Linked DNA regions of Homo sapiens: regions 1 and 3 are each linked to region 2. Evidence: fine-mapped expression QTL. A gene starts in region 2. Each other region holds a variant in brackets. All regions are shown on one strand. Distances are between the middles of the regions.

Region 1 (8,183 bases), 32 kb before region 2:
ACAGTTACCTGGCAACAAGTGAAGAGTTACTTCCTTCTCTGTTACTTCCTTTTCGTTTGTGTGAATTTCCTAAAAGAGAAGAGCAAAGGATATTTTTCTTTGTTTAAGGGTTTAAAATGAATAACATTAAGCCATGCTTTCAGAATACACACTAAAATATCACATACCCTCAGGAGCTTTTCGTTTATGTTACAAGCTACTTTTTTTTTTTTTTTTTTTTTTTTTTTTTTTGAGATGGAGTCTCACTCTGTTGCCAGGCTGGAGTGCAGTGGCACGATCTCAGCTCACTGCAACCTCTGCCTCCCAGGTTCAAGTGATTCTCCTGTCTCAGCCTCCCAAGTAGCTGGGACTACAGGCGTGTGCCACCACGCCCAGCTAATTGTTTGTATTTTTAGTAGAGATGGGGTTTCACCTTGTTGGTCAGGATAGTCTTGATCTCTTGACCTTGTGATCTGCCCGCGTCAGCCTCCCAAAGTGCTGGGATTACAGGCGTGAGCCACCATGCCTGGCCCAAGCTAGATACTTTTTAAAAACAGGAAGTGTTCTAACTAAAGGAAGACAGAAAACTCCAAGTTATGGATATTTAATGTATTAAACTAATTATTTAGGACTGATAACTAGTAGCTGTCCCAAGTAGAGGGGGTGAGGTGGGCACTCCTTATCTCTCCTTATCTAAGGAACAACTTGAAGTGTCACATAGCAAAGCAAGGCTGCTCAAACACAGAATCTGAAATAAAAGAGATGGCCCAGCGTGGTGGCTCACACCTGTAATTCCAGCACTTTGGGTGGCCGAGATGGGCAGATAACTTGAGGTCAGGAGTTCGAAACCAGCCTGGCCAACATGGCAAAACCCCGTCTCTACTAAAAATACAAAAATTAGCCAGGCATGGTAGTGAGTGCCTGTAATCCCAGCTACTTGGGAGGCTAGGGCAGGAGAAACACTTTAATTCGGGAGGCAGAGGCTGCAGTGAGCCGAGATTATGCCACTGCACTCCAGCCTGGGTAACAGTGGGACTCTGTCTCAAAAAAAAAAGAAAAAGAAAGAAAGAAAAGAGACAACACGCCACAGCATGATCCCCTCTCCTTCCAGTGAGGATCAAGGGTTGAAAGCAAAAGATGATGTGTTCTTGAAAGAATATGGACACATAAATAAGGCCCAAAGGTAAGAATAGGAAAACATGAATGTATCAAGTCAGTATTGATCCAGCTAATCTACAGCACACCAGGGCTCAGTAAAGAGAGCTGGGACATTCTTTGTCCATTCAAAGTTACCTAAAACCACAAGACAGTGCCAAGGGATACAGTCATTTCTAACAGAGAATCAAGGCCAGTTTCTGGGTCACTGCTTCTCAGTAAAAATATATTCAAATGCCTCTACTTGGGGCTCAGTATTTATGGGATATTCAAAGATAATTAATTACAAACATGAATGAATGAATAGACCAAAGCAATGATCATATATGGCTGTTAACATAACAAAGAGAGGCACCATGGGCCTCCTAATAAAGTGTGCCACACCATCCAGGAAGTGTTCTTGCCAAAATATCTAACCTCAGTCTCCTTGAACTTCCACAGCAATCAGCCAATGTATCAGAAACACTGGGACAGAGAAACATGTCAAATAATACAGTGGGGATATAATCAGTCAAATTCTGACTGTGAAAAATTCTACAAGACACAACCAGTTTTGTCAACAAATAAAATCAGATTTTTTTTTTTCTTTGGTAGAAGGCCCTGGGTGGGAAATTTTCTGAATTTGTTAATTCAGACTGAAATATGGCATTAGAAGAAACTTGGGTACAGCCTATCTTGAGGCTGAAGAAGAATGTTAGGGCTTTTCCTGAGAACTCATTTTTGAGCATGGTATAAATTGGAGGTGACTAAGATGCCAGTAAACCAAGTCCCTCTGAGGCAGTGTGGTCAGATCACGTGGGAAGCTTGTTATCTAAACACTCTCTGGCACCCATAAGCCTGCGGACTTATAGTGCAGGGATGCAGGCTGGCTCTCTGATTTTGTAAAAAGCTCCCCAGATGATTCTGATGTACTGGTCTGGGGCTTAAGCAAGAGGAACTATTCCTGCATGTTAAAAGCTACGACTGTTTTGGTAATTTAAAAATTCTTGGCCAGGTGTGGTGGCTCACGCCTGTAATCCCAGCACTTTGGGAGGCCGAGGTGGACGGATCACCTGAGGTCAGGAGTTCCAGACCAGCCTGACCAACATGGAGAAACCCCGTCTCTACTAAAAATACAAAATTAGCCGGGGTGTTGGTGCATGCCTGTAATCCCAGCTACTCGGGAGGCTGAGGCAGGAGAATCACTTGAACCCGAGAGGCAGAGGTTGCAGTGAGCCGAGATTGTGCCTTTGCACTCCGGCCTGGGCAACAAGAGCGAAACTCTGTCTCAAAAAAAAAAAAAAAAAAAAAAAAAAAAAAAAAAAAAAAGTAAGTTATGGCTGGGCACAGCAACTCACACCTACAATCCCAACACTTTGGGAGGCCGAGGTGGGAGGACTGCTTGAGCCCAGGAATTTGAGACGGGCTTAGGAAACAGAGTGAGACTCATCTCTACAAAACAAACAAACAAAAAAATTAAAAAATCATCCAGGTATGGTAGTACACACCTGAAGTCCCAGGTACCTGGGAGGCTGAGGTGAAAAGATCACTTGAGGCCAGGAGGTCAAGGCTGCAGTGAGCCATGACTGCACCACTGCATTCCAGCCTGAGAAACAGAGCAAAACCGTGTCTCAAAAAAAAAAGTTACTAACCAAGGATCTGCAAGCTCCATTGAACTCAGAGCCTACATTCTTCGCTGCTATGTACCAATTCTAACAAACATGGTCTCCAGTTTCCCATTGCAAAAGAGAAAATCAATGTAGCATCCATTGCTTGTAAAGGAAACTCTTACCACAAAACTGATCAGAACAAATAAGAAAAATTCCGTTAGGAGAACTACTTCACATTCAAGGATCTGCCACACACAGCAGCATTCCCCAAACTTTTGGAGCTAGGTGTTGGTTTCACGGAAGACAATTTTTCCACGGACCTGGCAGGGGGGCAGGGGATGATTTTGGGATGAAACTGTTCTACCTCAGGTCATTAGACATTACTTAGATTCTCATAGGGAGCGTGCAACCTGGATCTCTTGCATGTGCAGTTCACAATAGGGTTCATGCTCCTATAAGAATCTAATGCCGCCACTGATCCCACAGGAGGTGGAACTCAGGAGGTAATCCTTGCTGCCCCCTACTCCTACATTCAACTCCTGCAGTGCTGGCACAGACTAGTACCAGTCCGCAGTCTAGGGGCTGGGGACATACAGGACAAAAGCACATGGATGTTAAAGTCAACTACCACTCTTGAGGACTTGCTGAGAGGCAGCCTGGTGGTATTTACTTCACTGGTTCTTGAAAAGTCAATTCTTTGGACTCTTACCAAGTTCACATTCAGAGTGCACATCATCTCAAATGTGTGATGATCCTGGGGCACCTTAGGAGAGGTAGAAAAAGGGTAGGGCCCTGCCAGAAAGATCTTGAAAAGAACTAGGGTGTGTGGGGGTACAATGAAGCTCTCATAGGTCAAAATGCTTATAAATGCTCCTATCAGCTTTAAATCAAAAACTGAAATTGTTGTTCTCAGATTAATTTTATCCAGCCAGAGGGACAAACTCTAAGAAGCAACATCTCTAAAGGTTCCAAAACAATTTCTTTCCATTGCATTTGACACAGTGCTAAAAGGACATAACACAGACATTTCATTTCCTAAAAGCTGCCCTACTTTTCTAGAATGAACACTTAATACTCATTTTTTTCCAGCTAAGTAGAAAATCTGAGGGAGAAAAATGAATTTGCATCTACATATTAGGTAGGTATCCATGTATATCTTAAAACAAAATTTTTTTAAGTAGAAAGTTGTATTTTTTATACAGCATAGTACTAATAATTTAAGTTTTTGTCTTTCTCTATGTTTCTCCAATATTTTCTCTGTGCATGTACTAAAAACAGAAAGAATACCGACCTGGGGCCACAGTCCAAATATGGCTCTGGCATCCACAGATGTGACTTTGGTCTTGTCATTTAAACTGACTGAGTGTCAGTTTCAGTTTCCTC[C/T]GATATACTAAAATGGAAACAATACTACCTAGTATGAGAGCTTTAAGAGATACATACATAACTTCGGTGACACAGGTACTTGGTCATGTAATTTGTTATAGTTGTTGGGGGTAGCAGGATCTGTGCTTCTGCTTGATTTCCTTTCATGAGTAAACAAAGAGTAGGGGAATTATTCAAGAATCTCTCGGCAGGGTGTGGTGGCTCACACCAGTAATCACAGCACTTTGGGAGGCTGAGGTGGGTGGATCACTTGAGGCCAGGAGTTTGAGAACAGCCTGGCCAACATGGTAAAACCACGTCTCTACTGAAAATACAAAAATTGGCAGGATGCGGCAGCATGTGCCTGTAATCCCAGCTACTCGGGAGGCTGAGGCACGAAAATAGCTTGAACCCGGGAGGTGGAGGTTGCAGTGAGCTGAGATCGTGCCACTGCACTCCAGCCTGGGCAACAGAAGGAGACTCTATCATTAAAAAAAAAAAAAAAACAAAAAAAACTGTTACATGAGACTAGTAACTTCTACTTTTCTCCCAATCTTGTTTCCCATATTAAACTAAATTGACTCTACTCAGGCTCACAATTCTTTTTTCTGTGGATCAGGAATTCCTGAAATTAGCAACACTGAAGTTGGCCCTAAATCTGTAAGACTTTAACTACATTAGGAATATCTGAAGCCAGGGTAAAGGAAATAGCATTTTTCTATTAATAGGATTTATCTTCTAGCAGCACACCATGATTTATGTCTGGTCATTATGCATCTTATCTTTTGCAATAGAAAGCACTTTGAACCCTCTGCAAGACCAAAAAAGTAGACCAATGGCTTTCTTAAGAAACCACATCTGGGCCGGGCGTGGTGGCTCATGCCTGTAATCCCAGCACTCTGGGAGGCTGGGGCGGGTGGATCACAAAGTCAGGAGTTCGAGACCAGCCTGACCAACGTGCTGAAACCCCGTCTCTACTGAAAATATAAAAATTAGCCAGGCATGGTGATGCATGCCTATAATCCCAGCTACTCAGGAGGCTGAGGCAGGAGAGTCACTTGAACCTGGGAGGTGGAGGCTGCAGTGAGCTGAGATCATACCATTGCACTCCAGCCTGGGAGACAGTGCGAGACTCCGTCTCAAAAAAAAAAAAAAGAGACCACATCCGAGAGGAAGGACCTGCTTGGGCATGCACACACAAAAAAGCTTTCTCAGCTACTAATTTTGTTGACAGTAGATCAAGTTGCTAAAAGGTGGTAACAAATTGAGAATAGAAACCTATATAACCACTGGAGCACTGGAATTTAAGGTGCCACACTGTACTCAATCATCACGAGCATCAGGCTGGGTGCGGTGGCTCATGCCTGTAATCCTGGCACTTTGGGAGGGCGAGGCGGACGGATCACGAGGTCAGGAGATCGAGATCATCCTGGCTAACATGGTGAAACCCCGTCTCTACTAAAAATACAAAAAATTAGCTGGTGAAACCCCGTCTCTACTAACAATACCAAAAATTAGCCAGGTGTGGTGGCGGGTGCCTGTAGTCCAGCTACTCTGGAGGCTGAGGCAGGAGAATGGCGTGAGCCCGGGAGGCGGGGCTTACAGTGAGCCGAGATTGTGCCACTGCACTCCAGCCTGGGCGACAGAGCAAGACTCCATCTAAAATAAATAAATAAATAAATAAATAAATAAATAAATAAATAAATAAAATAAAAAATAAAAATCATCATGAGTATCTAATCCTTTCTGGTTAACACTTCAAAAAAATTATAAATATACACTATGCAAGTCTTACAGATAATCAACTCAGGTAAAAAACAAATAACCATCATCACCACTATCAACTGCTTCCCCCCTCAAACAAAAATCCAAACCAGTCCCAAGAAGAGAAATAACCTAGAGGACTCCAAAAAATCAGGGTATACAAATAAGAATCATAAAGAAATCCTTGCCTCAAAAATAAGTTTAATTGGAGTTTTTCTTTGAATTTGATTTTCACAAGTTACCTGTTTGGGTGGGTAGGAAGGACGGAACGGAGAGTATTCACTGGCAATGTCTGTAGTCTCTTCATCCCTATATTTCACAATCGCTTTTTGAACTCCACAAGAAAAACAAAGAAAGAACTGACAAATATGGAGCTAATATATTTCAATATTCTTAAGAGAAAACGGATTTACCATTCTTTGCTTGTTGATCACAGGAGAATGAACATAGCTGAATGAAGGAGAGCAGAGGTGGATACCAACAAGGTACGAGAGCACCCGTATCTGGATGTGCTGAGTCCTACATGTGGATCTTGGAGTGGGTTCCCCTGAAATTCCCCTATGTGCATCCTACTCCTAACCATGCTGTATTCTGAATGTGTATAAGCTGTTGTTTTCATTGGCAAATTTGTTGGGTGAGTGATTAAAGGCTGTCCAAACTTTACAATTGAATGAGTAAATATAATCTCTTTCTTAGTGGCATTACAAATTACTACACTGTGACCAAGAGTCACTTGTGGACTGTAGACATCACAGATGTCCAATCTGTGAACGCCAAAGTCTACTGTTCCTTTTTCCAAAGTGGGTACAGGGCCAGCCCTTACTGAGGTTGAGAAGTGAATAATAACAAACATTTCTTGGGCTCTAAGTGCCAGCTACTGTCTAAAAAGCTTTGTATTTATTTATTAACTCATTTAATCCTCACAGCAAACCTTTGCAATAGAGTTATTATACCCATGATTGTCTCCATTTTACAGATGAAGACACCCTGCTAGTATGTGGCACAGGTGAAAGTCAAACCCTGTGCGCAGTCTGCGTTCCTGGCCCAGTCTGCATTCTTATTCAATGCCACACTGTCATGTGGAAAGAAGGAATGAAAGGAAAAAGGAAAAACAAGGCAGAATGATCAGTGAAGTACCTGCTAGATCCACCTGAAACCAGGTAAAAGCGAGCAACACAAAGTGACCAGGGAAAGCCTCGAATGAGAGTTATAGAGAGGCCAAGGGAAGCTAAAGGGAAAACAACAACAAAAGACACCTACACCCAACCTAAGTGACACTGGCCAGCTGCATGGAGAAGAACCTTGAGGCTCCTCAACACCTACTGAAAGTGTTACCTCTTATGACTCACTCCACTGGGTCCTCTGAGGCATGAGTCTCTAATTTTCAAGCCAACTGACTCAAGAGTTCAATGGGACTCCAGGAAAGGCTCTAACCATGAATAACACTGGTATGTATGCCTGAGCAATTCTTGCTTCCTTTCAAGAGTATATAATCTTGGCCAGGCGCGGTGGCTTATGCCTGTAATCACAGCACTGTTGGAGGCCAAGGTGGATGGACCGGATCACTTGAGCTTAAGAATTCGAGACTAGCCTGGGCAACATGGCCAAACCCCATTTCCACAAAAAAAAATTTTTTTTTTTTTTAATTAGCCAGGCATGGTGGCATGTGCCTGTAGTCCCAGTTACTCAGAAGGCTGGGGCGGGAGAATCACCTCAGCCTGGGAGGTCAAGGCTGCAGTGAGCTATGATTGCACCACTGTACTCCAGCCTGGGTGACAGAACAAGACCCTGTCTCAAAAAAAAAAAAAAAAAAAAAGAATAGAAAAGAAACAATAGCTAGGCTTAGCCACTAATATGGATGGCATCACCAAATGCTCTACTCATATTGCAATATACTGAAAAACGGAGGATTCCTCTAAAGCTTAATGGAAAGACTATTACTTGTGAAGCCTTTTCAGAGAGAGCAGTAGATAGGCCCAGCACATCCCAGGATCTAACAGCCAATTCAATCAGCATCCAGTGAGAGCTGCCTGTGTACTATCCCTATTCTTTGGGGTGGTGGGAGCTTCTTAAACCATAAACTAGTTTTACAGAAGGGTCTAGAGTTGCCCTTAAGCCTCTGCGCCTTTAACTCTGACACTCCCTACCAACTACCTAGTTAGTAGATGTTGACAACCTTACTTCTGCAGCTGTGAAACACGAGGTAACATTCCTCACTTATTCCACTAACTATCATGTTCAATGTGCAGCAAAAAGGTAGAAAAGGTATAGTTCTTTAATACTCAAGCAGAACTGGTTCTACTGGTTAGGCTGACAGACTTTTCTTAAAAAACT
Region 2 (8,183 bases):
AGCCAAGAGAAGGTTACCAGACCCAGGGCTCTCAGAAGCACATAAGCCATGCCTCGATGTTGCTCACCTGCATTTCCCGTAATATGATTACCTGGCAAAACCTATATACTTAAAAATACATTGCCTTCTCACCCCTTCCTACCTTTATCTTCTTTTTTTTTTTGAGATGGAGTCTCACTCTGTCGCCAGGCTGAAATGCAGTGGCGTGATCTTGGCTCACTGCAACCTCTGCCTCCTGGGTTCAAGGGATTCTCCTGCCTGAGCCTCCCGAGTAACTGGGACTAACTACAGGCACACACCACCACGCCCAGGTAATTTTTGTATTTTTAGTAGAGACGGGGTTTCACCATGTTGGCCAGGATAGTCTGGATCTCTTGGCCTCATGATCCACCCACCTCGGCCTCCCAAAGTGCTGGGATTACAGGCGTGAGCCACCACGCCCGGCCTTACCCTTATCTTTTAAAAAACCATCCACAATTTAGGACAGAGCCTTATCCTCTGTTACAAAACATGTTTAGAGTCAGACTACAACAACGAGGCATAGTGTCTGCACAGCATTATTTTAATGCAAGAAAACAAAGCTGCCAACTATAAGGATCTGAAAAATGTGACCACTTCAGGCTTATTTTAGACTGAACCACTCCCCTTCCCTAATTATCCCTCAAAGGAAATACATCAGGCACTGTGGGCAAAGAGGGAAACATGTCTAATTACAACATGTGCACTTGGTGGACGAAGAATTTGAACATTCTTGAACTCTGGCCACATTTCAGAAGACTTTCCACTTGTAGTTTAATTTCCCTGAAGAGAAAAGTTTAAAGATCAGTTGCACTTCAACCAGGGTTCTATCAAAAAAAGACATAAAGAATACCCGACAAGCATAGGCAACCAAAGCAAAAATGGACAAATGGGATCACATCAAGTTAAAAAGCTTCCTCACAGCAAAGGAAACTATCAACAAAATGAAGAGATAACCCACTGAATGAGAGAAAATATTTACAAACCATCTATCTGACAGGGGATAACAAGAATATGTAAGAAGCTCAAACAACTCAATAGGAAAAAATCTAATAATCCACCTAAAAATGGAGACAAGATCTGAAAGACATTTCTCAAAAGAAGATATACAAATGGCAAAAAAAGGTACATGAAAACGTGCTTAACATCATTGATCACCAGAGAAATACAAATCAAAACTACAATGAGTGCTCGCTTCAGCATCACATATACTAAAATTGGAAGGACACAGAGAAGATTAGCATGGCCCCTGCGCAAGGATGACATGCAAATTCGTGAAGCGTTTCATATTTTTAACAAACCCTTAAATGTTAAAAAAAAAAAGTATGAGATATCATCTCATCCCAGTTAAAATGGCTTATATCCAAAAAAGATAAGCAATAACAAATGCTAGTAAGGATGTGGAGAGAAGGGAACCTTCATACGCTGTTGGTGGGAACGTAAATCAATACAACCACTGTGGAGAACAGTACGGAGGTTCCTCAAAAACTAAAAATAGAGCCACCATATGATCCGGCAAGCCCACTGCTAGGTATACACCCAAAAGAAAGGAAATCAGGGCCAGGCACGGTGGCTTACGCCTACAATCCCAGCACTTTGGGAGGCTGAGGCAGGAGGATTGCTTGAGCCCAGGAGTTTGAGAGCAGCCTGGGCAAAGACAGCAAGACATCACCTCTACTAAAAATTTTAAAATTAGCCAGGTGCTCTGGCATGCACCTGTAGTCCCAGCTACTTGGGAAAATGGCTTGAGTACAGGAGGTGGAGGCTACAGTGAGCTGTGATCACGCCACTGTACTTCAACCTAAGCGACAAAGCAAGATCCTGTCTCTAAAAAAGGAAGAAAGGAAATCAGTACATGGAAGAGAAATCTGCACTCCCATGTTTATTACAACACTATTCACCACAGCCAAGATTTGGAAGCAACCAAAGTGTCCATCATCAACAAATGAATAGATAAAGAAAATGTGGTACATACACACGAGTACTATTCAGCCATAAAAAAGAATAAGATCCTGTCATTTGTAACAATGAACAGAACTGGAGGTCATTATGTTAAGTGAACTACGCCAGGCGCAGAAAGACAAACTTTGCACGTCCTCACTTATTTGTGGGAGCTAAAAATTAAAACATTTGAACTCATGGAGACAGAATGATGGTTACCAAAAGCTGGGAAGGGTAGCAGGGGAAAGGGAAGTGGGGATGTTTAATGGGTACAAAAACACAGTTAGAATAAGATCTAGTAAGTGATAGCACAACAGGGTGACTACAGTCAACAATAATTGTATATTTTATAATAACTTAAAGAGTATAATTGGATAGTGTGTAACACAAAGGAAGGATAAATGCTTGCAGTGATGGATACCCCATTCATGCATTGTATGCCTGTATCCAAAGATTTCTTTCTTTTTTTTTTTTTTGAGATGGAGTCTCGCTCTGTCGCCCAAGCTGTAGTGCAGTGGCGCGATCTCGGCTCACTGCAACCTCTGCCTCCTGGGTTCAAGCGATTCTCCTGCCTCAGCCTCCCAAGTAGCTGGGATTACAGGTGCGCACCACCATGCCTGGCTAATTTTAGGGTTTCACCATGTTGGCCAGGCTGGTCTCCAACTTCTGACCTCAGGTGATCCACCCACCTCAGCCGGCCCAAAGTGCTGGGATTACAGGTGTCAGCCACCATGCCCAGCCCAAATATTTCATGTATCCCATTAAATATATACACCTACTATACCCACAAAAATTTTTTAAATGTTTAAATGTTTTAAAAAGACACAAAGAGAAATTGACCACATTGCTTAAATGTGATACCACAAGGGAAGCCCGCTGAAACTTTAAGATGACCCTGACTCCACATCAAGTGCTAACAGAGGAAATGGTTTGTATTTTACAACTAGGACTAAAAATAAGACCCATTTTAAGAGCACTTTCCCCTGGAGAAAACACACATATCTTGAATTTAAAGATACATATGCAAATGCCTCAGGCCCCAGGTGGTCTTTACGGAAGCAGTCCCTGATCAGATCTCTCATCCACAGCCCACGTGCTTCTGCATTACAGAGGTGGGAAGACATCTGCAACAAATTTGGCGGTGCTTCTGCACTTCTGCTGGAGAGAAGGGCAGAAAAAAACCTTTACAGATGCAAAACAAGAAGGCTTCTCATTAGGCATTTGGATTAAGAACTATTGCTCAAGAAGCCCTGAGCAAGGCCTACAAGTTCTGATCTCTCTAACCTCCTCTCCTATGACTGTCCCCCTTGTCCATGGGCCTCTGCCATGCTGGCTTCCTTGACGCTCCGCCAACCCTTCAGACACACTCCCACCTCACGACCTTCCCGGGGGCTGTTCCCTCTACCTGGACGACTCTTCTCTCAGACCTCTCGTATCTTCAAGTCTCGGCTCAAATGCCACCTTTGCGAGGAGGAAAAAGATTTCTTTTCTTTCCCATGATATTTATCACCTCCTACTACACCGTATAATTTACTTAATTATCTATAATTCACCCCGTTTCTCCTTTCCCCCTCAAATAAGCTCCAGGAATGCAGAGATCTCTGTCCTGTTCACTGATGTCTATCACAAGCACTTAGTGCCTGACACACAGTAGGAGCTCGAGAAGTATTTTCTGAATGAATGAACAAATTTCTTGACCTGAAGATTCAGAAGAGTAAGAAGTGGGTGGAAAGGATGATGGTGAGGGGATGAGGAGAAAGAAGCGACAGCGGAGAATTCCCAAGGGAGAGACAAGCAGAGACTGGCTGAGGCCAGGCCGACCCCCTTTTCTCCCCGCAGCGCTGACGGGAGGCGGACGTAGGTGCAGGGCATCCCGCCAGCCGCACCCGAGGCACTCAGACGCAGGCAGCGGAGGCCGGCGGGCTTCTGGGCTCACTGAGAAAGTCCAGAGGCAGGACGGACCCACGCGGGCTCCGAGCAGGCCCCGTTGGGGGCTCCGACCCACGGCCCTACCCCTCCCAGCAGTGCCCACAACCCCAGGTCCTCTCCAGAATCCCCAGGGGCGTTCCGGGCCGCAATCCCTTCTCGGCTCGGGCCCCTCCACCAGCCTCCAGCGCTCGGGCCCTGCGCTCAGGCACCTGCCTGCCTGCGCCGGGGTCCCCATTCCGGCCCGCGCGGAGGCCCCAGCGCGCTCCTGCGGCCTCAGCCCGCCTGGCTGCCCCGTCGCCCGGCACAAGGGCAGGAAGCGCTCCGCGGCGCTCCCCGCTGCAAGGAAGGGGCTCCCGGCGCCCCTCGCCCCGGCCGCCCCTGCCCGACGCCCCGCCTGCGCGGCGCCCCCTCACCTCAGGGCGTACGTACGACACGAAGGAGGGCTTGGGGGCCTTGGTGCCGCCGCCACCGCCGACTACTCCTTTCCCCAGCATACCGCCGCCCTGGGAAGCAGCGACGCGCGGACGCAGAGGCGGCGGCTCGGGCTCCAGCTGGGGCAGCAGCGGCGGCCACCAGCACTAGCGGCTGGGGCTCCGCCCATCCCCAAGGCCGCGACCGCCGCGATGCCGCCCGCATCCGGCTCCGCCGCTGACACCGCTCGCCCCGCCCAGGCCCGTGGGCCCCGCCCATCCCGTGCGCGGGCCCAGAGAGCCGGGAGACCGCAACTGGAGGCCACGCCCCCCCATCACGTCAGGAGAGTTTGACCCGCCGAGATTCACCACCTTCCTGCGGCAGAGCCCGCCCTCATGCTTTCTCTGATTGGCCCGAGGCGCTGCCGGCCGAACCCCGCTCCCAACCCATTCTTGAGTGCACTTGGAGAGATGTTTCCTCCAACCAATCCAGAGAGCGTTCTCTCCGGACTTTCCAACGATTGGATGGCGAGGATAAAACCGTCGTCCAATGATCCTGCAGTCACCAAGTTGTCGTTAGCAGGGGTTCACGGCAGTCGTTTTCTTCCGTTTGCTTGTGTCTTTGGAATAAAACGTCCAAAAATGGGATGTATGGAATCTTGCTATAGGAGTTCCCAACTTACAGCGATGACGTTCAAGGTTTTTTATTTTATTATTATTTACTTTTGAGACGGAGTTTTGCTCTTGTCGCCCAGGCTGGAGTGCAATGGCGCGATCTCTGCTCATTGCAACCTCCGTCTCCCAGGTTCAAGCGATTCTCTTGCCTCAGCCTCCTGAGTAGCTGGGATTACAGGCGCCCGCCACTATATCCAGCTAATTTTGTGTGTGTGTGTGTGTGTGTGTGTGTGTGTCGTTCTGTCGCCCAGGCTTGAGTGCAATGGCGTAGTATAGGCTCACTGCAACCTCTGCCTCCCAGGTTCAAGCGATTCTCCTGCCTCAGCCTCCCGAGTAGCTGGGATTATAGGCGCCTGCCATCACACCCGGCTAATTTTTGTATTTTTAGTAGAGACGGGGTTTCACCATGTTGGCCAGGCTAGTCTCAAACCCCTAACCTCGTGATCCGCCCGCCTCAGCCTCCCAAAGTGTTGGGATTAGAGGCATGAGCCACCGCGCCATGCCGCTAATTTTTGTATTTTTAATGGAGACGGGGGTTTCACCATGTTGGCCAGGCTGGTCTCAAACTCCTGACTTCAGATGATCCACCCGCTTCGGCCTCCCGAAGTGCTGGGATTACAGGCGTGAGCCACCGCGCCCGACCTCAAGGTTTATTATTTTAAATGTAAACAAAAATGAGACAAACGATGACTCACGCCTCTAATCCCAGCACTTTGGGAGGCCGAGGCGGGTGGATCATCTGAAGTCAGGAGTTTGAGACCAGCCTGGCCAACATGGAGAAACCCTATCTCTACTAAAAATACAAAAATTAGCCTGGTGTGGTGGCGGGCGCCTGTAATCCCAGCTACTCGGGAGGCTGAGGCACGAGAATCGCTTGAACCAAGGTTGCAGTGAGCCAGGATCGCGCCACTGCACTCCAGCCTGGGTGGCAGAGCAAGACTGTGTCTCAAACAGAAAAAAAAAAGTGTCAAATCAAGTGTTAACAAGGCAGTGAGGAATAAGTTTGAGCGTTTGATAATAAAAGACTTTGTCAACTTCATTTTTCCAAACCTTTCCCTTCTTTGTGTTTCCAACAGGAAGAATATCAAGAGCCCTTAAGAGACTTCTATTTACTCTACGAAGTTATTGATAAAACCCTCATTTTTTAGTCAAGATTGCAAAGAAAATTCATTTCAGTTCTACATTTGGTGCCAAGCGTTGTTAGTTGCAGATAAATAAGATAGAATCCAGCTCTTAAGAAATTCAATCTAGTGGAAAAAAACATAAATATTTGCAGTTAATTTTTTAGGCGTCAGGCACTGTGCTAAGTACTCTCATTGGTGACCTTGATTTTTACCCTCTTAATCTCCATGTGCTCCCCCTTCCCAAATACACTCCAAGTAAATATAAAATCTTAGTGAAAACAAATGTGCTTGCTTTTGCAAACATAGTTTCAACGCAAGTCCTGCAGCTCCGTTTCCAGCTAGATTGCCACCTGTAAGCCAATATTTGGTATAGCTGTGCTGCAGCCGCCTCTGAGTTTCCTTATCCCAGTTTCCAGGTGACAAAACAGAGATGCAAGTAATTTGCCCAGGTCTCACAACTAGTCACTGAGAGAGCTGGGATTTCAACCCGGGTTTGTCTCATTCGAAATCCCAAGTTCTTAACATTATAATTATACAAATTAGAAAGGAGCACAATGAAAGTGTGGTCAATTCTATTTGGGGAGTCCAAGTTGAGGCCATCCTTACAAGGTTGAGAAGAATTCTGCACAAAAATAGAGTTATAACTAAGCATTAATCAGGCTGCAGTTCGGCCTGCTTCTTTGTATTAATAACTTCAGGTAACACTAGGTACTGACCATTTGCATCCCTGTTGTTTCAATAGGTAGGATTTCTGGCTCTGGAATCATAAGGGTTTTATTTAAGAATTGCTTAGGCAGATCCTACGTTCCAGCAGAACAGCCGACATCAACCAGTTTAAAGACCGCCCCCGCCCCAACACACACACACACACACACACACACACACCCACACACACACAGGAACCGAATCAGTGCGAGAATACAATTTCTTCATCTCTCTGTCTCATGACTTTACCCTGCACTTTTCAACCAATTGATGATCTCCACACTTTGGTCCACTTCAAAACCCTTAAATACCCTAGCCCCAGGCAGGGTGCAGTAGCTCACACCTGTAATCCCAGCACTTTTAAAGGCCAAAGTAGGAGGCTCACTTGAGTTCAGGAGTTCAAGACCAGCCCAGACAATATAGTGAGGCCCTGTCTCTATGAAACATTAAAAAATTAGTCAGGCATGGTGGTGCAAGCCTGTAGTACAAGGTACTCAGGAGGTTGAGGTGGAAAGATTGTTTGAGCCCAGGAGTTTGAGGTTACAGTGAACTGATAGGTCACTGCACTCCAGCCTAGGTGACAAAGCAAAATCCTGTCTCAAAAACCATCCCCCCGCAAAAAAACCCTAGCCCCAAACTCCTTGACTCCTCAGGGAGATGAATTTGAGGTTTCCTCCTGTCTCCTCATCCAGCAGCCCTACAATTAAACCTCTTTCACTGCTGTAACCTGGTGCCTTGGTGTATTGACTTGTCCAGTGCATTGGGCAACAAACCTATTATAGTTACAAAGTAAGGCTTCATAAAAAAAGATATTCTTCATGGGAGTGTTAAAGAATACTTTTCTTTGTCAAGACTAATATCATTATATTTTGCAGCAGTCTTCACTTTTCGAAGTAGAATGGCAGGGCAGATTTTTAGACACTGAGAAAATGTTTCCTTTCTTACTTTTCAAAGTATTTTGAATTTCCATGACCTTTCACCATAGTTGTTAGTAAATGTGACTATGTCCAAGGCTGGCTTCTTTGGACATGAAACTAGTGCAGTCACACAGAATCTCATACTTAAGAAGGCTTGGAGGCCGGGTGCAGTGGGATTACACCTGTAATCTCAGCACTTTGGGAGGTCAAAGCAGGCAGATCACTTGAGTCCAGGAGTTTGAAGCCAGACCGGGCAACATAGGGAGACTCAGTCTCTACAAAAAATACAAAGAATTAGCCTGGCATGGTGGTGTGCACCTGTAGTCCCAATCTCAGCTACTTGGATGGCTGAGGTGGGAGGATCACTTGAGCCCTGGAGGCAGCAGTGACCCATGATTATGCCACTCACTCCAGCCTGGGTGACAGAGCAAGACCCTGTCTCAAAAAAAAAAAAAAAAAAAAAA
Region 3 (8,183 bases), 95 kb before region 2:
TAATTAATAGGAAAGAAAAAATGGCTAACATGGAGGGGCGATATTGATTTCTACTAAATGAGATAAAGAATAAAGTATTTGCATAATGTAATTTCCTTGAAAACTGATCATTGATAAAAGCCACTCTTTCTTTCTCCTTTACCATTTACCCAAACACAAGGAAGTAGTTCTAGAAATAAAAATAGTTTTTAGAAAAAAAAGTCAACGTTTACTAAGCACTCCCTATGACCAACATTGTACTATGCACCTTTCATGGACTGCTTTTTAAAATACTCAAGTAATTATATGTAATATCTAGTCAAAAAATGGGTATTTCAAATTCCCCTCTTGATACTTACTGCAAGAGAAACGACATCAATATAAGTTTTGCTGGCCAGGTGCATAGCTAGACTATACCTATAGTCCTAGCTACTCAGGAGGCCAAGGTGGGAGGATTGCTTGAGCCCAGGATTTTGAATCCACCCTGGCCAACATGACAAGACCCTATCTCTTAAAATGAATAAATAAACAAATAAATAAAATAGGGGTACTCAATAGATAAAATATTTATTTATTTATTTTTAATGGTTTAATGTTTAATGATAATCATTGTTTTGCCATGGGGTAACTAGACATGACTGGCAGTTTATATAAATAACCCATAATTAGTCCACTTCAGTACAAACCAAATAATCAGTTTCTCTCTTTTCTTTTTGTGAATTTTCCTGGGTCATATTGACAATTTTTCCTAATACTACACACTGTTTCATCTTTGTCTTTTTCATGCATGCTTCATTGACACATATAAAATTAAATGTCTGCATCTTGAAGGTCCCAACAGTTAGTTCTTTGGTTCCCAAATCTTTTGTTTGTTTATTATTGTTATTATTTTACTTTAAGTTCTGGGATATATGTGCAGAATGTGCAGGTTTGTTACATAGGTACACATGTGCCATGGTGGTTTGCTGCACCTAACAACCCATCATCTAGGTTTTAAGCCCCGCATGTATTAGGTATTTGTCCTAATGCTCTTCCTCCCGTTGCCCCCAACCTCCAACAGGCCCCAGTGTATGATGTTCCCCTCCCTGTGTCCATGTGTTCTCATTGTTCAACTCCCACTTATGAGTGAGAACATGACATGGTATTTGGTTTTCTGTTCCTGTGTTAGTTTTTTGAGAATTATGGTTTCCAGCTTTATCCAAGTCTCTGCAAAGGAGATGATCTCATTCTTTTTCATGGCTGCATAGTATTCCATGGTGTATATGTGCCACATTTTCTTTATCCAGTCTATCATGATAGGCATTTGGGTTAGTTCTAAGTCTTTGCTATTATAAATAGTGCTGCAATAAACTAGATACAATATTTATAATAAAACTAGTATTATGTTAATATAAAAGTTGAGATAAAGTACAAGGTCAAAGCCAAGGTCTGATTACATTGCTTTACCATGAGACCCCCTTCACTTCCCTGAAAACTGATGCTGAACAATGCACCATAGCTTCTATCCTTGGGTTCCTTTCTCAAGCTTTTTCTAATCATTGCTTTTCTTATGTGGAAGCAGGCAGGGGCCTAGTGATGAAGGGTCCTATTAGGCTGGGACCTGAGGGGCTGAGGAGTCACATTTATCCTAAGGGCAACTAGAGGCCTTAAAGAATTGTATGTAAGTGGCATGATCTGGTTGGCATTTTAGAAAGATTCTGGCTGCAAAGTGGGGCTCAGATTGGAGAGAAACAGGAAGGATGCAATCAGAGAAGTTGATAGAGGAGTCCAGGTGACAGCACAGGACGGCAGGGCGCAGGGTGGTGACAGTGGGATGGAGAGAAGTGGAAGGACTCAAGACAGGCAGCAGGTGGACTCAGTGGACCTTGGGGGTCAATTAGGGCTAGGGAGTGAGGGGAAACAAGACATCTAGAATAGTTCCCAGATCTCTAGTTTAGACAACTGAGCAAACGGCACACACATTTTATAAGACACAGAGTTCTGAAGGAGAAGCCAGTTTGGAGAGAATAAAATGAGTTTAATTTTGGATGTGTTGAGTTTGCAGTGCTTTTAGACATTTGAGTCTTGTGATATGGGTCGAAGCAGGAGATGAGATTTGTTGGTCATCTGTGTATAGGCAGGAGGTAAGAATTTAGAGGTCATTTGTGCACACGAGGTAATGAAGGCCACCTCCCCCAGGAAGAGGGTTAAGAGTGAACACAGCCAGGCGGGGTGGCTCACGCCTGTAATCCCAGCACTTTGGGAGGCTGAGGCAGGTGGATCACCTGAGGTTGGGGGGAGTTCAAGACCAGCCTGACCAACATGGAGAAACCCTGTCTCTACTAAAAATACAAAATTAGCTGGGTGTGGTGGCGCATCCCTGTAATCCCAGCTACTTGGGAGGCTGAGGCAAGAGAATCACTTGAACCTGGGGGGCAAAGGTTGCGGTGACCTGAGATGGCACCACTGCACTACAGCCTGGGCAACAAGAGCGAAACTCTGTCTCAAAAAAAAAAAAATAAATAAAGAGTGAACAGAGACCGACGGAGGGCAGGAGAAAGACCATTCTCCCAGGGAGGCCGAGAAGGAGCAGCCAAAGGGACGGAAAGGAAACCAGGAAGTACAAGATCATGGAGATCAGGAGAAGAGAGGCGTTCAAGAAGGCAGTGGCCCACAGAGCTGGCCACAGAGGGAGCCAAGCTGGGTCTGACAGACGTTGACAGGAGCCTTCCCGTGTCTATTCTCTTCTTCCTGGTTTGTCACACTCAGTTCTAATTGACAGAAAAGCTGAGAACTTGTCCTGAACACTGTCCTTTGGGTTTGGTGGCCTGGAGTGGACTGACAAGTGAGTGTGACATGGGGCAGTGAAAACCCAAATGAAGGTGACTGTTTAAGGCACCCCCAGCCCGTGGCCTATTAGGGACTGGGCTGCACAGCAGGAGGTGAGGGGAGGGTGATGGAGCATTACTGCCTGAGCTCCGCCTCCTGTCGGATCAGCAGCAGCATTAGATTCTCTTAGGAGCGGGAACCCTATTGTCAACTGTGCATGCGAGGGATCTAGGTTGCACGCTCCTTATGAGAATCTTAACTAATGATTCTCTGATGATCTGAGGTGGAACAGTTTCATCCTGAAACCATCCAACCCAACCCCTGCTCCTCCTTGGTCTGTGGAAATATTGTCTTCTGAGAAATCAGTCTGTGGTGCCAGAAAGGTTGGGGACCACTGCTTTAAGGAGTTTGGCTGGCCAGGCGCAATGGTGCGTGTCTGTAGTCCCACCTACTCAGGAGGCTGGGAAGATCCCTTGAGCCCAAGAGTTCAAGTACAGCCTGGGCAACATAGCAAGACCCCATCTCTAAAAATAAACACATAAAAATATTATTATTATTATTTTTTGAGATGGAGTTTCACTCTCATTGCCCAGGCTTGAGTGCAGTGACGCAATCTTGGCTCACTGTAACCTCCACCCACTAGGTTCAAGCAATTCTCCTGCCTCAGCCTCCCACGTAGCTGAGATTACAGGCATGCACCACTAAACCTGGCTAATTTTGTATTTTTAGTGGAGACAGGGTTTCACCATGTTGGCCAGGCTGGTCTCGAACTCCGGACCTCAAGTGATCCACCAGCCTCAGCCTCCCAAAGTGCTGGGATTACAGGCATGAGGCACTGCATCTGGCTAGATTATTCTT[A/AAAAT]AAATAAATAAATAAATAAATAAATAATAAGTCTGTCAGGCTGATAAAGACAGGGAATAGGGGTGGGGAGTGTAGCTTGAAGAGGAAGGTAGGATCCAGGCATTCATTTTGTTTTGAGATAGGCTAGACCAGGGCACATTGAACGGGCGGGGTCTGTAGAGACCAAAGGACTGGGAGACAGAACATAATAGAAAGCAAAAGGTTCCTGAGGGATAATGGAGGGGGGGATTGGGAGGGTGGGGGGCACAGGTATAGGGCCTGGGTGTGGGGAGAAGGAGGCCGAGACTTCCCCCGGAACAGGTGGGACTGCGGGAGAATGGTGGGCCATGGGGCCATGGAGCCTGGACTGGTGCGGAGAGAGGAGCAGGAGACACAGCCTCCCTTGACAGTGCTCGGTTAGATCCGCAGGGCTCGGGAGGAGTTTCTTTCCTATCCTCTTTATTAATAAAACTGCCCTTTTATCTATTTTTTATTGGTTTTTATTTTGGGAGACAGGGTTTTGCTTTGTCCCCCAGGCTGGAGTGCAGTGGTGCGATCTCTGTGCACTGCAGCCTCGATCTCCTGGACTCAAGCAGTCCTCCCACCTCACAGTTCCCGGAGTAGCTGGGACTACAGGCCTGCACCACCACACCCAGCTAATTTTGTTTTTGTTTTTGTAGCGATGGGGGTCCCGCTATGTTGCCTAGGCTGGTCTCGAACTCCTGGCCTTCGTCAATCCTCCCCACTCGGCCTCTCAAAGTGCTGGAATTACAGGCATGAGCCACCATGCCCAGCCCAAACTGCCCTTTTTATCTCTGGTGATGGCTCTATCCACAAATATTAAAGATGATTTTTTATAATAATATAACAAATCTCGAACCTAATGGTTTAAATTCAACCTCCTGAATTAGCTTCTTCAGCATGTATTTACTGAGTGAAAAGTAGACAGCAGGGCTACCACGCCGGGGCAATCACTTCTGTGTCCTACAGTAGGTCCCTAGTTAAAATGAGTATTTGGCCAGCAGCCAAAATGGAAAGAGAGGCCTCAAAGAAACTTGCAGCTGCGGGACAACTTCTCTCTCCCCAGCCTGTCCTTTCTGAGAGCCACGAATACCTTCAACCACCTGATTTAAGTAGAGGAATACCCAAAAAGGCGAGCCGTTGGGGCCTAACCACAGAACTACATCTCTGAACAGAGCAGCCATGGCTGTCGCGCTGGAATTCACGCGTCTAAGCTGCTCTTTGTCTTGACAATTTGGCTTCTTTCTGCTTGAGTCAGTCCAGAATAAGTTCTCCTTGTGCCTAGAACACACTGAGCCCTTATTCCCTGGCATGTGCTATGTTATTACGAAGAAAACCAGCAAGTTTTGAATCTGCTCGCACAGTAGAACTATGCATCAAACTGGTTATGCAAAAGGCAGGGAAGGGTATGTGTTACGTTACATTTTTCTTACCACCTGCCATAAACAGAGGCTGTTTAATTTCTTGGCTTTTCACTCATTTTTTTTAAAAAAATCACGAAACATTTCTTTCCTGAATAGTGTTCTGCAGTGTGAACGATTTTGGGCGGGGGGTGCACATTTGAGAATGTTACTGTACTTCAAAGGCTTGGCAGGACTTCTTGAACTGAGATGAATGGAGAGGTGCTCTGTATATTCAAGGCACTGTGTGGGTTTTTTTTTTTTAATTTTATAAAAACTCCACATTAAGGATTGAATCACATAATCATCTAGTTAGTTTTGCCATTTCCTGTGAGGCAAGGGGCGGTGTGGGTCAAATCTTCAAGAGTTCTGGAAAATCAGCCCCATACCCAGAAGCCCCAAGACAGGATGAAACTCGATTCCCTGGTAGAAATAGGAAGGGCAATTTAGACATGGCCCCCAGGCTTTGCGAATCTAAAAATTATTCCCCTTCGTAAAGGGGAGGCACAGGCAGGACTGGGGAGAAATCAGGCAGTTTCTGTTGAGGTAGGAGGGAGCTGAAAGCATTAGTGAGGAATGGGCTTGAGACAAGACTGTCACAATTCCCTGCACGTGCCCTTTGAGAAGCTATGGAAAAATGCACTAGAGGCTGGGCGCGGGGGCTCACGCCTGTGATCCCAGCCCTTTGGGAGGCCGAGGAGGGGGCTATTGCTTGACCTCAGGAGTTCAAGACCAGCCTGGGCAACATGGTGAAACCCTGTCTCTACCAAAAATACTAAAACGAGCCAGGCGTGCTGGTGCGCGCCTGTAGTCCCAGCTATTCAGGAGGCTGAGGTAGGAGGATCGCTGGAGCCTGGGAAGTTGAGGCTGCAGTGAGCCCTGATTGTACCACTGCAATCCAGCCTGGGTGCCAGAGCAAAAAAATAAATAAAAATAAAAATAAATAAATAAATAAATAAATGTATTAGAACTCCACCTCAATTCAGAGCAATTTCCATGAGACAATGCAGACTGAGAAAAGCAAGATAAAGAGATGTGGTGTAAACAATATCCCAGTCCCACCTCAAATTCATATGTTTAATTTGAACCACATGAAAATGTCATTTTTGTAGTAAAGAGTGGTCAAATGTTGGCAGTGTCGTATTGGTTCAAAATGGTTAAATGTTGGGAATCTAATATATATATATATATATATATTTTTTTTTTTTGGAAGTGGAGTCTCGCTGTGTTGCCCAGGCTGGAGTGCAGTGGTGCAATCCTGGCTCACTGCAACTGAGTAGCTGGGACTGCAGGAAGGCACGCACCACCACGCCTGGCTAATTTTTTTTTTTTTTTTTTGAGACAGAGTCTCACTCTGTCACCCAGGCTGGAGTGCAGTGGCACCATATTGGCTCACTGCAACCTCCGTCTCCTGGGTTCAAGCAATTCTCCTGCTTCAGCCTCCGGAGTAGCTGGGATTAAAGACACCCACCACCACGCCCGGCTAATCTTTTTATATTTTTAGTAGAGACGGGGTTTCACCATGTTGGCCAGGCTGATCTCAAACTCCTGACTTCAGGTTATCCACCCGCCTCAGCCTCCCAAGGTGCTGGGATTACAGACGAGAGCCATTGCGCGCGGCCCCTAATTTTTTTTTATTTTTTATTTTTTGAGACAAGTCTCACTCTGTCGCCCAGGCTGGAGTGCAGTGATGCAATCTCGGCTCACTGCAAGCTCTGCCACCATTCTCCTGCCTCAGCCTCAGCTGGGACTACAGGCGGCTGCCACCACACCCGGCTAATTTTTTTGTATTTTTTAGTAGCGACGGGGTTTCACCGTATTAGGCAGGATGGTCTCGATCTCCTGACCTCGTGATCCGCCCGCCTAGGCCTCCCAAAGTGCTGGGATTACAGGCGTGAGCCACTGTGTACGACCTGTATTTTTTAGTAGAGGTGGGGTTTTGCCATGTTGGCCAGGTTGGTCTCAAACTGCCAACCTCAAGTGATCCACCTGCCTTGGCCTCCCAAAGTGCTGGGATTACAGGCATGAGCCACTGTAATCCCTTTCAAAATAAACAGGTAAGAAACTGTAGCTGCCTCAGAGAAGAAGAGGGAGACTATTACTTAGAATTTGTGGAAACCGAAAATTATCAGCCCCACATTTAAAAATTCTGCCTTGACTGAAAAAATGATAGCCTGTTGACACAATTGCTTTAAAAATACAAGGCCCTGAACTAGCCATGATACTATTTTTTTTTTTGTTTTGAGACGGAATTTTTTTTTTTTTGACAGCTCATTGCCCAGGCTGGAGTGCAGTGGCACGATCTTAGCTCACTGCAACCTCCGCCTCCCAGATTCAAGCGATTCTCCTGTCTCAGCCTCCCAAGTAGCTAGGATTATAGGTACCCACCACCATGCCCGGCTAATTTTTGTATTTTTTGTGGATACAGGGTTTCACCATGTTGGCCAGGTTGGTCTCAAACTCCTGTCCTCAGGTGATCTGCCTGCCTCAGCCTCCCAAAGTGCTGGGATTACAGTTGTGAGCCACCGCGCCTGGCTGTTTTCTTATTTTGATGTACCACCCCCTTGAATGAGCAGCTAAATATTTGGGCATTACTGCATGTTGCAGAGGCCTGGCCCCTGGGTGGGGGATTGTTACACAGTGTGCTTGGCTAGGCTAGACCAAGCCAGCCAGGTGCCTGGCTTGGCGGCTTTGTCAGAGATGCTGTCCCCAAACTGCTGTGGCAGGAAGGCTGTCCATCTCCCAGCAGACCCTATGGACTGCAGTAGGCGGTCCCTTGCCCACATCTCTGGCAGTCCCTGCACACACCAACAGATTCCCAGGAGCAACCCGCCCTCAACTAGTGGGGAGAGGAGTTGTTGTCAGTACCCCAGCTTCCTCACTCTTCTGTGGGACTATTCCAAACATGCTCCACATGGTCTCTCGGGAGTCCCCAGGGGGCTGGCCCCAGTTGCCCACAGTAATCACTCGTTCCTTACTGTATCTGTTATTCTTTGTTTTCCCTTTCTCCGTTCCCCATCATTTCACAGTGGTACCTGGGAACACTGCCCAGATAAACCACTTGCACCCAAATCCTTGATCCAGAGCCTGCTTCTGGGGGAATCCAAACTAACACATATAGACCTCAGGCAAAGAGCT

Which allele goes with the higher level. Positions count from the first base shown, and alleles are read on the strand shown. Sizes are in standard deviations (SD) of each study's normalised expression. Not every link is listed here.
For the expression in follicular helper T cells of the gene that starts at base 4,483 in region 2, AAAAT is the high allele of the variant in region 3 and A is the other (large effect, 2.0 SD a copy in Schmiedel 2018).

What was found.
Region 1: its variant is fine-mapped to the expression of MTMR12 in whole blood (INTERVAL, PIP 0.93).
Region 3: its variant is fine-mapped to the expression of MTMR12 in follicular helper T cells (Schmiedel 2018, PIP 0.95).

Annotation. Positions count from the first base shown.
Region 1 is chr5:32,276,674-32,284,856 of GRCh38, forward strand. It overlaps MTMR12 (myotubularin related protein 12), which reads right to left. Exons shown (of 16, transcript NM_001040446.3): 2 at 9-69. Among named protein-coding and RNA genes, the nearest start is that of MTMR12, 32 kb to the right of the region's middle. RefSeq lists enhancers at 3,993-4,042, 4,063-4,172. The variant C/T (reference allele first, on the strand shown) is at 4,107.
Region 2 is chr5:32,308,457-32,316,639 of GRCh38, forward strand. It overlaps MTMR12 (myotubularin related protein 12), which reads right to left and starts at 4,483. Exons shown (of 16, transcript NM_001040446.3): 1 at 4,302-4,483. The coding sequence starts at 4,382. It also overlaps the pseudogene RNU6-378P. RefSeq lists silencers at 1,526-1,686, 3,812-3,951, 4,022-4,811 and an enhancer at 4,902-4,951.
Region 3 is chr5:32,213,358-32,221,540 of GRCh38, forward strand. No RefSeq gene overlaps it. Among named protein-coding and RNA genes, the nearest start is that of GOLPH3, 43 kb to the left of the region's middle. The variant A/AAAAT (reference allele first, on the strand shown) is at 3,646.